2 separate regions of the Homo sapiens genome follow, and region 2 is linked to region 1. A link means that fine-mapping ties the variant in region 1 to the expression of a gene that starts in the linked region. Tissue or cell type: whole blood. Region 1 holds a variant in brackets; the other region holds the start of a gene. All regions are shown on one strand. Distances are between the middles of the regions.

What was found. PIP is the estimated chance that this variant, and not a neighbour inherited with it, causes the effect.
Region 2: it holds the start of EPC2, and the variant in region 1 is fine-mapped to the expression of EPC2 in whole blood (TOPMed, PIP above 0.99).

The regions. Positions count from the first base shown.
Region 1 is chr2:148,687,171-148,695,352 of GRCh38, forward strand. It overlaps EPC2 (enhancer of polycomb 2), which reads left to right. Exons shown (of 14, transcript NM_015630.4): 2 at 3,044-3,203. Among named protein-coding and RNA genes, the nearest start is that of EPC2, 47 kb to the left of the region's middle. The variant G/A (reference allele first, on the strand shown) is at 4,446.
Region 2 is chr2:148,640,835-148,649,016 of GRCh38, forward strand. EPC2 (enhancer of polycomb 2) reads left to right here and starts at 3,917. Exons shown (of 14, transcript NM_015630.4): 1 at 3,917-4,336. The coding sequence starts at 4,184. RefSeq lists silencers at 3,571-4,150, 4,911-5,000 and enhancers at 3,990-4,494, 5,091-5,240.

The DNA.
Region 1 (8,182 bases):
ATTTTTGCCTTCAACCTCATGAGCCAATCTCTGCCATCTTCTAACTTTTTTCCTGTAGCTTTTTCACCTCTCTCAGCCTTCATAGAATTGAAATGCCTTGCCCTGGATTAGGCTTTGGCTTACGGGAATGTTGTGGCTGGTTTGACATTGACCACTGACCAGACCACTGAAACTTTCTCTGTCTCACCAATAAGGCTGTTTTGCTTCGTTATTATTTGTGTGTTCACTAGAGTGGCACTTAGTGAGCTTAAAAAGGAGCAGAAAATGTGGCTTTATAATATTTTGTGATTTCTAGTAGGCAGGTCTCCGTTCTCATGCCACATTTTCTGCTGCTTTTTAAGTTTACTTAGCTATTCCTAGACTTCTGTTCCTTAGCCAAATTTCATGGCATTTTTCTTAAATATGCTTTCTTGATTTAACTTATTCTGACAAAATGCCAAAGAGATGCTGACTATGATGTAGTATAGATGATTATTTGGGGAAAAGCAGGTATGACTTGATTGGATCTGACAAAACGATGCTGCTTGTGGGAGTCCCAATAGCTGCCCTGGCTTACTGTTCACTTGTCTATGGCATAGAAGCTTGTTTGCCCACTTCCTCATATTGTATTTCTTTTCTTTCCCGTTTGTTTTTATGTCTCTGTCTCTCTGCTTTCTTTAACGGTAATTACTGGCAGAAGATCATGAAATTAATTATTTTCTTATTATTTGGTATCTATCCCCCTCTATCATCTTACCTTCCTTTTAAAGTACTAGTTATAATCAAACTAATCTACTGTGTATTTTGCATAGAATGGACCTTCAGTTTAATTTTATTTATGTCTTGCTGAACGAAACTTTTCTTTTTGGATCACTGCACTAATTCCTTTTGTATAATAACATTTCACATACCCTAAAGGCTTGAATGAAATTAAGACCTTCTAATTTCCAAAAAAATGGTGTAATATCTTAGGATTAAGAATTTTGGCTTTGCAAGACTTGGAACCAACCCAAATGTCCAACAATGATAGACTGGATTAAGAAAATGTGGCACATATGCACCATGGAATACTATGCAGCCATAAAAAATGATGAGCTCATGTCCTTTGTAGGGACATGGATGAAGCTGGAAACCATCATTCTCAGCAAACTATTGCAAGGGCAAAAAATCAAACACCACATGTGCTCACTCATAGGTGGGAATTGAACAGTGAGAACACATGGACACAGGAAGGGGAACATCACACACACCAGGGCCTGTTGTGGGATGGGGGGAGGGGGGACGGATAGCATTAGGAGATATACCTAATGCTAAATGATGAGTTAATGGGTGCAGCACACCAACATGGCACATGTATACATATGTAACAAACCTGCACATTGTACACATGTGCCCTAAAACTTAAAGTATAATAATAATAAAATTTTAAAAAAAGAATTTTGGCTTTGCATATATATGTATATCCTGAATTGTGTTTCTGTTTTGTTACTTAGAACTGTTTGACCTCAACAACTTACAAAACATCCTTATGCCTCAGTTTCTTTATATGCATTTTGCATAGCTTGACATATAGTAGGAATCCAGTAAAGATTTCATTTATTCATTCAGTTAATGTATGTTAAGCAGCTTCTATATTTTGGCCATTGTACTAGGCATTAGGGATAAGAAATTAACAAAACAAGCAAAAATCATTGCCTCCTTGGAACTTACTTTATGCTAGGGGGAGAGGGGCAGTAAACAAATGAGATCTTTACTATGATGTTGCAAAGTGGTATGGAGGAAAGTAAAACAGGAAAGGTATGGAGGAAAGTAAAACAGGGAAGGAATGCTAGAGGAGGAGTACTCTTTTAGATTAGAAAAAAAAGTCACGGAAGGCCTCTCTGCTAAGATAAGACTGGAAGCAATTTTGAAAGCAGACCGTTTGGATATATAGAAACAGCAACATCAGTGTGGCTAGAATTAAAGATTGGAGAGGAGAGAGGTTGGAAATGAGATAAGAGAGATGCAGAGTCTTGTAGGTCATTGAGTGAAATTTTTTTTTTTTTTGAGACGGAGTCTCGCTGTGTCGCCCAGGCTGGAGTCCAGTGGCGGATCTCGGCTCACTGTAACCTCTGCCTCCTGGGTTCACGCCATTCTCCTGCCTCAGCCTCCTGAGTAGCTGGGACTAGAGGCACCCGCCACTACGCCCGGCTAATTTTTTTTGTATTTTTAGTAGAGTCGGGGTTTCACTGTGTTAGCCAGGATGGTTTCGATCTCCTGACCTTTTGATCCGCCCATCTTGGCCTCCCAAAGTGCTGGGATTACAGGCATGAGCCACCACCCAGCCATTGAGTGATTTTTAACCTTTACTCTGAATAGGATGGAGATCAGAAATCCTTTATGGGGTGGGTGGCATGACACGATTTACCTTCCAAAAGGTAAAACTGTTTTATTGGGAATGGGCCATTGTGGGGGAAGGGAGGAAGGAGGGAAAATTCTATTTAGGAGGCTATTTCAGTAAGTTGTGGAAGTAATGAAGTGATTAGAAACTGGATATATGTTATAGGAACTGTTCATTTAACCTTTATTTAAAAATATTTTCTGCCCTGGTAGTAATAAAACTTGTTGAACATAATTTTATCTTTCTTTGAAATATTCAGAATTTTGTACTGTTAAAGTTTGAAGTAATAAATGCAGAAGATACTTAAAATCTGTGATACAAATTTATTTCCTGTAATTTGGAATTTTTCTTTCATCTGGTAGTGGTGACAAACACCTCAATTAATCTAGCAAACAGATTAATTTTTTGTAATTGAAATTTTATATTCTAGTTTCTGAGTATATATTTAATTTTGTTTAAAAAATTCTACTTACAAAAATTGTAATAATCTAAGGTGTTATCAGTATGAGCCACGAGTATTAAGAGAGAATGATGACAATGTAACTGTAGGTCTTTGGCAAAGGAACTATTTATAATTGATTCTTAAAGCACTTTGTGATTATTAAACAAAGTAACTTTTATATAAAATTATGCATTGATTAATATTACTAAAACAACTTATGTTGCCTACTTTACATTTTCCAGGAACATCATTTACAGCGAGCAATTTCAGCACAGCAAGTGTTTAGAGAAAAAAAAGAGAGTATGGTCATTCCTGTTCCTGAGGCAGAGAGCAACGTCAACTATTACAATCGCTTGTACAAAGGAGAGTTTAAACAGCCAAAACAGTTCATTCATATTCAGCGTAAGTTTGTTAATTCATTGTTTTCTGTTTGTACTTTAAATTTATCAACCAGTGGAAATCTTTTCTTTTGTCTAAAGAAATTCTGATTTTTTAATTCATACACACTGATTAATAGATATGTTAAACATTAAAGAATAAAATCCCTCTGTGCTTACATCTGAATTTGGAAATCATTTTGAGTTTTAAGTAACATTTGGAACATTTGATATTTATGTAGTATAGGATTTTGTATAGCACTTATACTTTATTACATAGCTAAAAGGTGGTGGATTACTATACCCAAATGAGATTTCCTTTTTTTTTTTCTTTGAGACAGAGTCTCTCTGTTACCCAGGCTGGAGTGCAGTGGCATGATCTTGGCTCACTGCAACCTCTGCCTTCTGGGTTTAAGTGATTCTCCTGCTTCAGCCTACTGAGTAGTTGGGATTACAGGCGTGTGCCACCACACCCAGCTGATGTTTGTATTTTTAGTAGAGATGGGATTTCGTCTTGTTGGCCAGGCCGGTCTCAAACTCCTGACCTCAGTTGATCCACCCACCTCGGCCTCCCAGAGTGCTGGGATTACAGGTGTGAGCTACCGCGCCCACCTGAGATTTACTTTTAAAGGTCCAGTGGCCCTAATGCCCAGGAGTAGTCTTCTGAAATTTTTCAGAATCAAATCTAATGCCTTTACTTTCATATAGTTTTTATTAAAGAATTCTGTGTAGTTCTGCCTCCTTAATACTCTTACTTTTCTCCCACTGTTAGTATTTAAATGATCACCACCTCTAGCGTGAAGACTTTTAACAATCTCCTGTTATATTTACTGTCCTGTATCTCCTGTCCCTATACTCTTCTAATCTAGCTTCTCTCCAAAAGAACTTCTAGAGTAGGATTTTTCAGCTGATTCCACAGACAGATGCTAGTGTCTTGTTATCTTGTCAGGTGTGTAAAAAAGAAATGTTGGATAGCTTGTTAAAATAGAGATCCCAAGGCTCAACATCCGGCCTAGCTGAAGTATCCACCTGTCTGACAACCTACCTGTATGAGAATCTCTGGGTGTGAAGTCTGGTGATTTGTATTTTTAAAGAGTTCCCTGTGTGATTCTGAAACATCACCAGCTTTAAGACTGACTATAAGATTGACTGCTTTTCATTGATTCTGAGATGCACTGTTTTCATCTTTGCAGTGAAATTGCATCTTAAATTGCTGTTGTTCAGGATTGAAGTCTTGTTCTTCTAAAGAGAATTTTCATTTGTTTCT[G/A]CCAGGCATTTGGGGACACTACCAACCGGAGACCACGTTAAAGTTTTTGCTTGTTTGTTTTGTTCATTTGTTTTTGGACCACAGTATTAGCTTTAATTTAGGCTGCAGATCTGCTCAAGGTTCAGTTCTCAGGAAGATTTTTTGCTTCTCCTTTCTACCTAAGGGCAAGTTGAGAAATACAAAATTCTTTGCTTTCCCTTTCTGCATGGCTAATTTATTTCTTTAATCTTACACTGAGGGCATAGCCCTTTGGTAATGTATCTTTATTCAGTAGCATTCTATACTAATATTAACACACAAGCATAAAGCTTTTTTCTTTCTTATGGTATATATAGTAATGTTGTGTCTTTTAATTGATGGCAGTTTAGATTTGATAGAATTCAATAATAGTCATATTCTCTAGTATGAATATTAGGTTCTTTGTAATTTGTTCCCGCTTTCTCCTTTAACGTCATTTATTTTTGCTCTTCCCTTCACTCTGTGTACCATAGGGACTACGAAAATTACCCTCATTCACCTTCTTTCATATTTAACATTTCCTTGGATGTGCTATTGAAGTCTTCTTTCCCTTCCTATAGCTCATTAAAGACTTAACTCCCTTATGAAAGCCACCTTGACTTTTCTCACTCTACCTGTCTTCTTTGCTTATCGTAGTATCTTTTACATACTTCTGTTAGAGGACTCACCATACTTTATTGCAATTATTTGTAACCATTCTTTCTCTCCTTTTAGACTGTGAGCTCCTTGAGGGCAGGAACTATATATTTTATTTTCTTTTGTGTTTTCAGAGTAAAGTGCTTGGTTTATAGATGCTCAATAAATGATGTGTTTGTCGACTGAATTGTTTTAAAATGGCTTTAAAAAGTCTTTTGGTGGTACAGCCATTTTCCACAGATTTCTTTTCTCTGAAATAGTCTAGAGAAACACACATGCGAAAATTATTTATGTATATTTTTTTCTCCTGTGTTCTTTGACTTTGAGTCCTATTAGCTTTTTGAATTTGCCTTTACCTTCTATCAGTCAGGAAGGAGATAACTATTCATAATAGAAATTTTAAGGATCTCTCTTAAGCCAAAGTATCAATTATTTTGTATTTTGATAATATTGCAGTTAGGCAGGAAGACCATTTGTAAAAACCATTCTAGGAAACCAAGAACTAAAAATCGGGTGTAACTCATGTGGGTCAGGCCCATCGAATACAATAAACATTATTCTTGTGTTGGTTTTTTTCATTTCATTTTATTCTATTATTGTAAAAAACAATAAAAATAATAGAAATTATTTTACCTTTCATTTTTTCTTTTAGCTTGTCAGCATATACTGCATACTATACAGTATCTTACTGCACATATGATATTTATTCTGCCTTTCTAGTCATATTTTAAGTTTCTCAGATTTTTATATGTAGTCATTTAAAATGCATATACCATTTTCCATCAGTTTGATATTTCACAATTTGCTTATTGGACTTAAGATTATCTGTACTAAATTTTAAACTCATTACTGATTTTTTCCAAGGAAGGTTAAAAAAAATTTTTTTTATGTAACTTTTTGCTAAGCCTTTAAGGAGTTTCAGAAAATTTCACTCTGGATTTTTCCTTTTCTTCTTTTAATGATAGATTAGAGAGAATCCCCATTCACTTGGCTAGAAAAAAAACATTGTAAAGTTGCCACAGTAGGATGGCCTTGTTCAGGTTCATCACATACTTGCCTGGGCTTTGGCAGAAGCCTCCTTCTTGCCCTAGTCTTTATACCTTCCAATCCATCATCCACTGCCACTGTTGTAATTACTATCCATTTCAAAATTTTCAGTGACTGTCTGTTGACTATAGGATAAAATTTTTAACATCTTTGTGTGATGTATAAGGCACTCCTTTGTGCCTGTCTAGCCATGTTTCCCTATGTGTTCTTCCACTATGACACCAACCTTATTGAAATGAACTGTTTGAGGGTCTTTTTCTTCCTCTACACTGTAACCTCCTCGCGATCAGGGGCTCCATCTTATGGTACTTTAGAATTTTTATTACCTAGTACAGTCCCAGAGTGTAGTCTCAGTACACTTTTCCTTCCTAATTTCTTTAACCCATCATGCTTCAAGCTACACTAATAATGAGATCTTTGTAGCTCTTTGAGTTATGCCTTATTTTGTTATGTCTTCACATAGCCTTTTACTTCTCAACTTGTTAAAATACAACTTGCCTCCAGGATTACCTTTAGGAGCCTTTTTCTGACGTCTCTCAGCATTGTTCTTGGTACTGTTTGCCCCACCCCTCCTGTGTCCAGTGCGTACTTTCGTTGTGGCACTGACCACCTTCAGTTGTGATTGTTTGCCCTCTGTTGGGCAGAGTTTATTGAGAGAAGGGACTTTTTTTTCTTTGAATTTCACTGCCTAGTACAGTACTTATAGCATGTGGTTAGGTGTGCAGTTAAATATTTGCTGAATAAATAAATGAGTGAAAGAATTAATGAAATTAAAAGCATATACTCCATGGCATTTTCGAGCCATCAGTATTTGTTGGACTAAAAATTGTACACAGAATCAAATATAAGGCTAAAATTATTAGTGCATACAGTGAAATTGAGCAACCCGCTGTGTTAGAAATTAAAAGGTGAGTTCTGTTATTCACCAACTGTTAATTTAGCCCAAAAAGTGCCGAGAAGGAGTTGGGAGTGGACTCCAATCTGTTATGAAAGTGAGACAAACATTCTTGTTCCTTCTGATCCCTTTCAGTAGCAGTTCTTCATAGTCACCCTTAATCAGCTTTATGCAGAATTTATTGAATCATAACACATTGAGCTGTCTTTACCAGGTGGGAAGCATCCTGAAGGCACAAAGTCTTTGATGACCTAAGATAGTAAAACACTTCAGTTGTGTGCCACATGCAGAAAAAAACACTACCTACTTTCATTAAGTTACATTTACTTTGGGTTCCTCAACCCAAATGTTATAATTTTCATTCCTCTTGGAGTTCAATAATTTTATTAAATTCAGTACCCAAACTTTTCTCTTTAAGGAAACAACTTTGTTTACATTTCAATAGTATCTTTATTTGATCTCCTATTACCTGTTTTATTTAATATGATAACATTTTACAGTTGATACTAAATATCTTGGAATTGTAGAACACGAAGGAACTTAACATTCTCCTCCCCCCGCCCAAACCCTGGTGACGGAATCTTGCTCTGTTGCCCAGGCTGGAGTGCAGTGGTGCAATATCTGCTCACCACAACCTTCCTCACCGCCCCCACCAGGTTTAAGCAATTCCTCTGCCTCAGCCTCCAGAGTAGCTGGGATCACGGGTGCGTGCCACCACGCCCGGCTAATTTTTGTATTTTTAGTAGAGATAGGGTTTCACCATGTTGGCCAGGCTTATCTTGGACTCCTGGCCTCATGATCCGTGATCTGCCCACCTTGGCCTCCTAAAGTGTTGGGATTACAGGCGTGAGCCATCGCACCAGCCTGACATTGTTTCTTAAGTATTCTGAAGTTAATTTGTATCCAGTTTTGAACTCAGTTAAATAGTTCTTGGTAGCAGGACTCTCTTTTCTTATTTTGAAATGAAAGTTTACTTCCCCCATCTCATTCCCTTAGTCTTACAAACATAGAACAGTAGACGGTCCTGACTGAAAGAAGAGTTCAGGAGAAAGGATAGGTGGAGTAATAACTTGTCATCTGTCAGGCAGAGAGAGGAATGCACTCAAAGGGAATTGAAATGTACCGTTTGTGTCTGCTTCCA
Region 2 (8,182 bases), 46 kb before region 1:
CTGGAGCTGTGTGTTTTCAAATCTGTTTCTTTTTTTTTTAGTTACCAAAATGCAGAGCTTTCAGGCTGATTATTTTGGAGTCTATTTGGATCCTTTGTGGAGCTGGGAAGTAAATCGTCAGCTTATACACAAGGTGGCACCCTGTGATTCCAACCAGGTCTGAGAGGAGCGATGCTGCTAAGAAACTGAGCCACAGTCACAAATTTTTATTTACCATCTGCTATTCCCACGGTGGCAAATGCAGAGGTAGAAGTAGATGTTTGGCAGGTCACCTCTCAGTGTAGTCTCTGTCCCTATGTCTCAAAGATGCAGAGCTGCCTCAGAAAAGGGCACTGGAACCACAGAACTGATTCCAGTTGATTGTAATGAATGCAGACCCCACATTCAGATTACATATGGAAAACAACGAAGCTTTATTAGTACTAGGCTCATTCCTGGGAACATAAGGGGGAGGGGTGGAGATGCAGTTCACATACTAACCCAATTAACTTTCAAATGGTTTTGCTGAAACCAGGAGCCAATTAGAAAGAACGTGACATTTGCAAAACTCTGAAATAGTTGAATAGCAACTGTGTTTACTAGTTTTAAGATTCCTTTCAAAAAGTAATTTGTCCATTATTTGGAAGCTGCCTGCCTTGATTATAGTACTGGGAGATGGACACTGGAATGTAATCCTAATTCTAACAGTTATTTGACATTTATTCTAATTTAGACTACATTTAGACAGTGATTTTATTTTGATATGGCTTTAAACTGGTTTTAATTCTTGGGTGCTTATATATTATGCTTGCTGGGCTAAATGCATGTCATTTGGAATTGGTCTAGAGCATATCTGAAGTGGACTGATTTTAGAATGACTATACTTAGCGCATTGTATGTGGAAATTAAAATAGGCTATTAGGCTGCACACCCATTTGAGGCAGGTCTTGATAAAAATATTTCATGAGAGAATTTTTTATTTTATAAGAAGATATTTTTTGCTTTTAGCACTAACAATTATATGAGTATTCAACAAATCAATCAGAAATAAACTTTATGAAAAGTAATATTTATATACAAATAAAAGTTACTTTCCAAAAGTGAACAGTGGCATTCCGGTTTGGGCACTGAATTGGAAGCCAAGAAAACACAGGCTGTGTCTCCGTTGAAAAGTATATTGTGTTATTTGCCTTAAATGGTTTTATTCCCAGCTCTATAATCATTGCCTACAGGGTGAGAAGAAAATGGAGATTTGGGGAAGAAATCTTTTACATGGTCAAAGTAAAAGAACAACAAAGAAACAACCACAACAGCAAAAATCCCTTCCTATAAATTCCAGGTTTCAAAAAGGTGTTTTTGAATAACATTAATTGGTTCTAAAATCTCTATGCACAAAGGTACAAAGCTGGACAACAGGGTAGGCCACAGTAAGAACAAATATTGGCAGCAATAGCTAGGTCAGGTGACAGGCCAGTGAGGTATGTGAACTATAAACTAGAGTGGCATGGGGTCAGTATCAGTGAATTTCTTCATGGAATATCAGTCAACAAATATACTTTAGATGCCTGCCATATGTGAGGCATGGAACTGGGGATACAGTGATTGACAGACAGATGTTGTTCCTGCCCTCCTTGGTCTACTGCAACTTTAGGCTCTGGCTTATGCGCTCCCTTGGCCGTTGGTTGGAAGGTCTTAGTAACTAATTTTGAATTAGCAGCTTTAGAATGCTGACTGGTCAATAAGCTGAAGAGCTTGGATAGCAGGGTAGCACCACTGAGAAAACCAGAGTTTTGGAGTCAGGTCAGACCTGAATTTGAGCCCAGTTCTGCAAGTTGTTGGAATTGAAATTTGGCAAATTATCTGATGCTCAGTTTTCTTATTGGTAAAATTATATTTTTTCATAAAATTATAATAAGAATTAAGTGGAATTCAACTAGTTGAGATAATATATATAACATGTTACTACAATGGATGGTATATTACACATACTTGATATTTCCTTTTCTGAGAGAAACAGTAAAACTAAACATAGGGACTAGAAGAAAGCTATCCTTTCTGAACCTGAGGAGGGCTGGGCATCCAGATGAAAGCTCTGGATGACTCATTTCTTCAACTATTGCTTTTTTCTTCCCTTTCAGGCTTGAACCCAGTGCTGACCCCCTCCCAAGAACTTCTTGTTCTTGCTTCCAGAGGATTGGAACTGTTCCAGGGGTAGCACTTAGAGAGCAGGACATGCCCATAAGCTTGAGGAAGGTACTGCTTACAAGAAATGAGTCACAGCAACTCCATTGCTTCCAACAACAAAGTGGATGAAAAACACTCAAGCCCCACTAAACAATACTCGGAGTTTTGCTGCGACAGACTGGTTAGACTATTTGGACACTACCATGAAGACTATATCCACCATTCTGCCTTCAAAGGAGGAGACTGCAGAGAGAAAAGGGGAAGAGGAACAGGAGGAAAAAGGGGGAGGGGAGGAAGTGGAGGAGGGGAAGAAGGACGTAATAGAGGAAGAGATATAGTTTTATTGTCACATAGAAATGACAGTAGGAATCAATTTTTTCACTGTTGGTCTTTAGGAAATCATCTGACTTTCTCTGAGTTAGAGTATGATCGATTATTAGAAAATGGTAAAATGTGTTAAAAACTCTCTTTGTACGGTTTTGTGAGAAATGTGTAATGCTTAAAGACTAACCAAGAGCCTCTTGGCTAAACCAGGTTGATGTCAACAATAGCTAGTACTTATTTGAGTCACCTTGATTTTCCCTCCTCTTGAGAACTTTCTCTAACCAGTTTAGGCTGCAGTCATGCCTCCTTTCCTTTCTCTGAACTCTCACAATTATTGCCTAGATCTCGTTTGGTAATTAATCATGTGCTACTTACTGCCTGTGTCATCTCTTGTATTGTTTTCTTAAAATATTTACACTTTTTTTTCGGTTGTCACTTATCTTTCCAGCTGTCATTTTCTTCAACTATTTACGTCTCTGTTACTCATCTTTCCAGCCATCCTGGCATCCCATTAAGGTGAAAGCTCTCTGAGGCAGGAACCTTTTCTCAGATTTCTTCGAGTCTTCCACAGCACCCCACATTTGACACACATCTGCTACTTCGCAAATGTGTGCTGCCTTGGCTAAATTTTTAGAAGCTGAACTTTTAGGAAAGCTACTATTTTTGAACTCAGAAAAATACCTACCATCCACTAAACAGCTGTACCGAAGTTTGGGTGACAGGGAACCTAAGTTCACTTGTTGCATCTGGCAGCCTCAAACCATGAACCCTCACTGCAAAGCGAGGATGAACGCGCTGCTGCACCTTGGAGAGCTCTTTCGGACAGGTACGGAGGGGAGGGCGTAGAAGAGGGCTGGCACCAGCAGCGCGGTCCAGTCCTCCGAACGGACTGATGGGACTGATGGGAGAGACCTCTTGCACCTCTCGGGGATGTGCGCCTCGGAGGATGCGAATTAGCTTGCGCACAGGGCGCCTTGGGGATAGCGCTGTCCAAGTACAGGCTTGGGTGATGGCTGGTGGGGTCCGGGTCGACATTTTCCCTTCCCGCTCCCGGACTTCTGCACACACGCGCTGCTCGGCGCAGCCGTCTTTGCCCGGCGCCTTCCTCCGGGACACCCAGCGAGAGGGGTGACCGGGCGGCGGCGGGAGAGGCGCACGCTCCCGGGCGCGGGCGAACTTGCGCACCTGGCACCTGCCACACAGCGAAAGCACCGGCCAGCGAGCGGAGGGGCGCCGCCCCCGCCCCCTCTCCCCGGAGCGGACCGAGACCGAGCACGCTCCCGCGGGCCGGCAGCGCCGCGGAGAGAGTGGGTGGGCAGGCGAGGGAGGGGAAGGGAGAGGAAGGAGGGAGGGAGGGAGAGGGCGAGGCGCGTTCCCGCGACGGGGGCGCGCTCTCGCGCGGGCTGCCGGGATCGCTCGCCGCCGCTGTGGTAATGTCCGCCATGTTGGCCATGGCGCAGGGAGCGGATCGGGCGGGCGAGCGGCGGATCTAGTGTGTGGAGGCGGCCGCGGGCGCGGGGGGCTGTTTTCGGGCGGGGTGGGCGCCCATGCTGTGGCCGGGGGCAGTGAGGAGGAGGAGGAGCGGGCCGGCCGCGCTGCACTGAGGAAGGAGGTGGAGGAGGCGGCGGGAGTCCTCCCCCCCTCCCCGCCCGCCCCGCCGCCGCCGCCCGGGCTGTTCCTGTAAGGCGGGGAGACAATGAGTAAACTCTCCTTCCGAGCGCGGGCGCTGGACGCCGCCAAGCCGCTGCCTATCTACCGCGGCAAGGACATGCCTGATCTCAACGACTGCGTCTCCATCAACCGGGCCGTGCCCCAGATGCCCACCGGGATGGAGAAGGAGGAGGAATCGGTAGGGACTCGAGTGTTTATTACCCCCCCTTCCCTCCTCCCCCCTCCCCTTTGTCAGTCGGGCCTCGCCATTCACAGAGCGCTTTACGCTCGCTGGAGGGCGCCGCTGCCGCTCTAACGCACGGGACTCTACGCCGGCGGAGTAGCGTAAACCCTCTCGGCCGGCGTAGCGCCCGCCCGCGGCCGCCATGTTGTTGCGTCCCAGTGTTGTGATTAGCTCGCAGCGCTGCTTACGCTGCCGTAAGGGGGCCTTGCCGTAAGCGGCGGCCGGGAATGGCGCAGGGGATGCGCTGGCCGCTCTTGGCGTACGGTCTCTGTTTACCTTTCCACCTCCCTCTCTCAGGCGCGGGGCTAATTAATGGCGTGGTATTATTTGGCTAGGCAAGATTATTATTTTTTCCACTTTTAACTTTGGCTTTGTATTGAGTTCTCTTTGAAATGACTGTGGAAGGGTGCTTTCAAAACAAACATCTTCCTCCCAGCAATGTAATCATCCTGGCTCCCCCGCCCGCGAAGGTGCAGCGGGATGAGGCGGTGCAGCACTGCGGCGGGGGAGGGCGGGGGCCACGACTACCGAGCGGGTCGTAGCGTCCGAGGGCCGCCCGCCGGCCAGTTCTGCCGACCCGAGCCGGGCGCGGGGCGGACGGGCTCTGCCTGCTCCGCCTGGACGGCCGTGCTCCGTGCGCAACGTTAGAGAGGAGCCGGGGATGCCCGGAAGCGAGCCGCCGGCGTTGCGTTGTCCTCGAGAATTGTCATTGCGAGGTGGTCCTTAGAAGTTGAGGACCTAGTGCATCTAAATTGGCAGTTGTAATTTTGATAATACAGCACCTTTTGGGAAAATTGCTGCTTTTCCTCCGATGGGTTAAATTTTGCAGACGGTTGGATTTCATCTGGCTTGACAGAGAGTGTTTATGACTCGAGTGGTGTTACTTGCGTGCGAAGTTCATAGTAACTGCACCCTCAAGAATTTCTTCAATGAACCTACAGTCCCGCCTTATTGTCAACCTCGGGTGTGTGTGGATTGGTTCTCTTGCTTCAGTGACTGTCAAAAGGAAGCTCGAGGTTTCAGTGATTGGTTTTCTCTTTTGACTATTAATATTGCAGGAAATGCTTTTATGCCTTCGATTGGCTGGTTGAGTTCTGACCTCATTATGTTACCCTGTTAATACTACTTTGCTCTTATTTAATCACATTTCTCTTTGATGTATAGTTACTTGAAAGTCTTACATTTTCAGTAGAAAATGCATATGGCCGTAGCATCGGGATGAACTTAACTGTGTGTGTACACACACAAATATGTAATAGATATATATACACGCACATACACATATATATTTGTGTGTGCATATATATAAATATGTTTATAATCAAAACCCAGCATTTATCCCTAAGGTTTAGAGCTGTGAGAACTTTTTTTTTTGTATGTGAGAACTTTTTTTTTTAATTTGTTTCTAACGACTCAGTTTTCCATGGGAAGGAAAATTAAAATAAAATCATATTATATACAATAGTTAATTACATTGAACCCTAATAAGCACAACTTTGGATATTTTTGCTATTTTGTGGGTCTTGATCCAAAGAAAGATGGCCTTAAAAGTACCAGTATTGTGTGTAATTACTTTGATCCTATTATTTTAGAACTTGAGTCAAATCTGTTCTAGGCCGGGCACGGTGGGTCACGCCTGTAATCCCAGCACTTTGGAAGGCCGAGGTGGGCGGATCATGAGGTCAGGAGTTCGAGACCAGCCTGGCCAGTATGGTGAAACTCCGTCTCCACTAAAAATACAAAAATTAGCCGGGCCTGGTGGTGCGCGCCTGTAATACCAGCTACTCGGGAGGCTGAGGCAGAAGAATTGCTTGAACCCGGGAGAAAGAGGTTGCAGTGAGCAGAGATCGTGCCACTGCACTCCAGCCTGGGGGACAGAGCGAGACTCCGTCCCCCCCAACAACAAAAAAAAGGAAATCTGTTCTAGAGTGAACAGTTAACTCCTGGAAGGTATATTACTTTTTGCAATCACCAACATACGTGGTCCTTAGTATGCCACATATGTTTTGGTATTTTAATTTAGTAAGATAACTTAGAGTAATTTTTTCATGCTTCATTAAAAATAAAAGTGCTTAACTCGTGTTGCAATTTTTTGTTTATTTGTTTTTTGAGATGGAGTTTAGCTCTTGTCGCCCAGGCTTGATTGCAATGGCGCGATCTCGGCTCACTGCAACCTCCGCCTACCAGGTTCAGGTGATTTTCCTGCCTCAGCCTCCCGAGCAGCTGAGATTATAGGCGCCCACTACCTCGCCCAGCTAATTTTTGTATTTTTAGTAGAGTCGGGGTTTCACCATATTGGCCAGGCTGGTCTCAGACTCCTGACCTCAGGTGATCACCCGCCTCGGCCTCCCAAATTTCTGGGATTACAGGTGTGAGCCACTGCGCCTGGCCGCGCCTTGCAGACTTTTTTTTTTTTTTTTTTTTTTTTTTTAATTTATTACCGAGTCTAGCTCTGTCGCCAGGCTGGAGTGCAGTGGCGCGATCTCAGCTCACTGCAACCTTCGCCTCCCGGGTTCAAGTGATTCTCCTGCCTCAGCCTCTCAAGTAGTTGGGACTACAGGCACGTGCCACTATGCCCAGCTAATTTTTGTATTTTTAGTAGAGACGAGGTTTCACCGTGTTGGCCAAAATGATTTCGATCTCTTGACTCTTGCTCCACCTGCCTCGGCCTCCCGAAGTGCTGGGATTGCAGGCGTGAGCCACCGTGCCCTGCCGCGCCTTGCAATTTTTTTATTAGCTCTTTTAGAAAGAATTATTTTCAAACTAGAGCATGAGTGCTAAACTTGGATACTTTTCAGTAGCCTACTTCAATTGCCCAATTTTAAGGAAGAAGAAATCCAAATTCTGATAAAACTAGAGTTGAAACCCAGAACCTCTGATTCTTTGTCCTGTCCTTTCTGCCTCTTTAATACATGCTAAAAGTGGAGATTCTTAAAATCAAAATTAAGCAAACCGTAACAGTTAAGATTTATAGTCTGAAATCTTTTGCTTCCCAGAGTGTCCAATTGGAGTATTAGTTTTTCTTTTTCTTTCTTTTTTAAATATGTATGTCAGAAGACTTGTGTTTTCATGAGTGACAGCAAATTCATTTCTCTGGTCTTACAGGACTTCTGTTATTAAACAGAATTATGTATTTATAAAAATGGTTCTGCCTTGATAAATATTTCTAAGCAGCAGTAAAATGTCATACATTTCACAAATGTTTTGTGTTTCACTTGAATTGCATTTTAAGTAACTTTCAATATCTAGATGTCCTTAACTCCTTATTTTTATAAGATTTTTTTCTTTTAAATCAGTAGGCTTGTAACAAACAAACCAACCTTGGCTTACGGATTCACAATTGTTGCTGGGTGTCTCTGAACTGTGCTGTCCTGCTTGGTTGGCAAAATCTTTTGAAGCCTTCATGGATGGCTTTTTCCCATTCCCCCTCTATCCCCACCCACCCTTAAAATTAAGGCCTGTCTCTTCTGTGTAGCTATTGGACTATCATTAGACTTCGTTTATATAAACAAAGTCATTATTCAAGTTCGAGTTACATTCTGACTGAGTTACATTCTGACAATGCCTGGATGAGGTGATTTAGGTGTTCTTGGGCATTGGTAACATTGTATCATTGATAATCATGTCATCCTGTGTAGCCTCTTCTTTTGGACATCCAAACATCTTTTACTTCTTTTCTTCCCTATCCTTATTATCATTGTCCTCTGCTAAGAGCTGCCAGTTGGCATCCTCCTTTAACTTGGTCTTTGTAATGCTCCTCACGGCACTTGGTCTAGGTCAAGTACTGTACACTTATGTTTA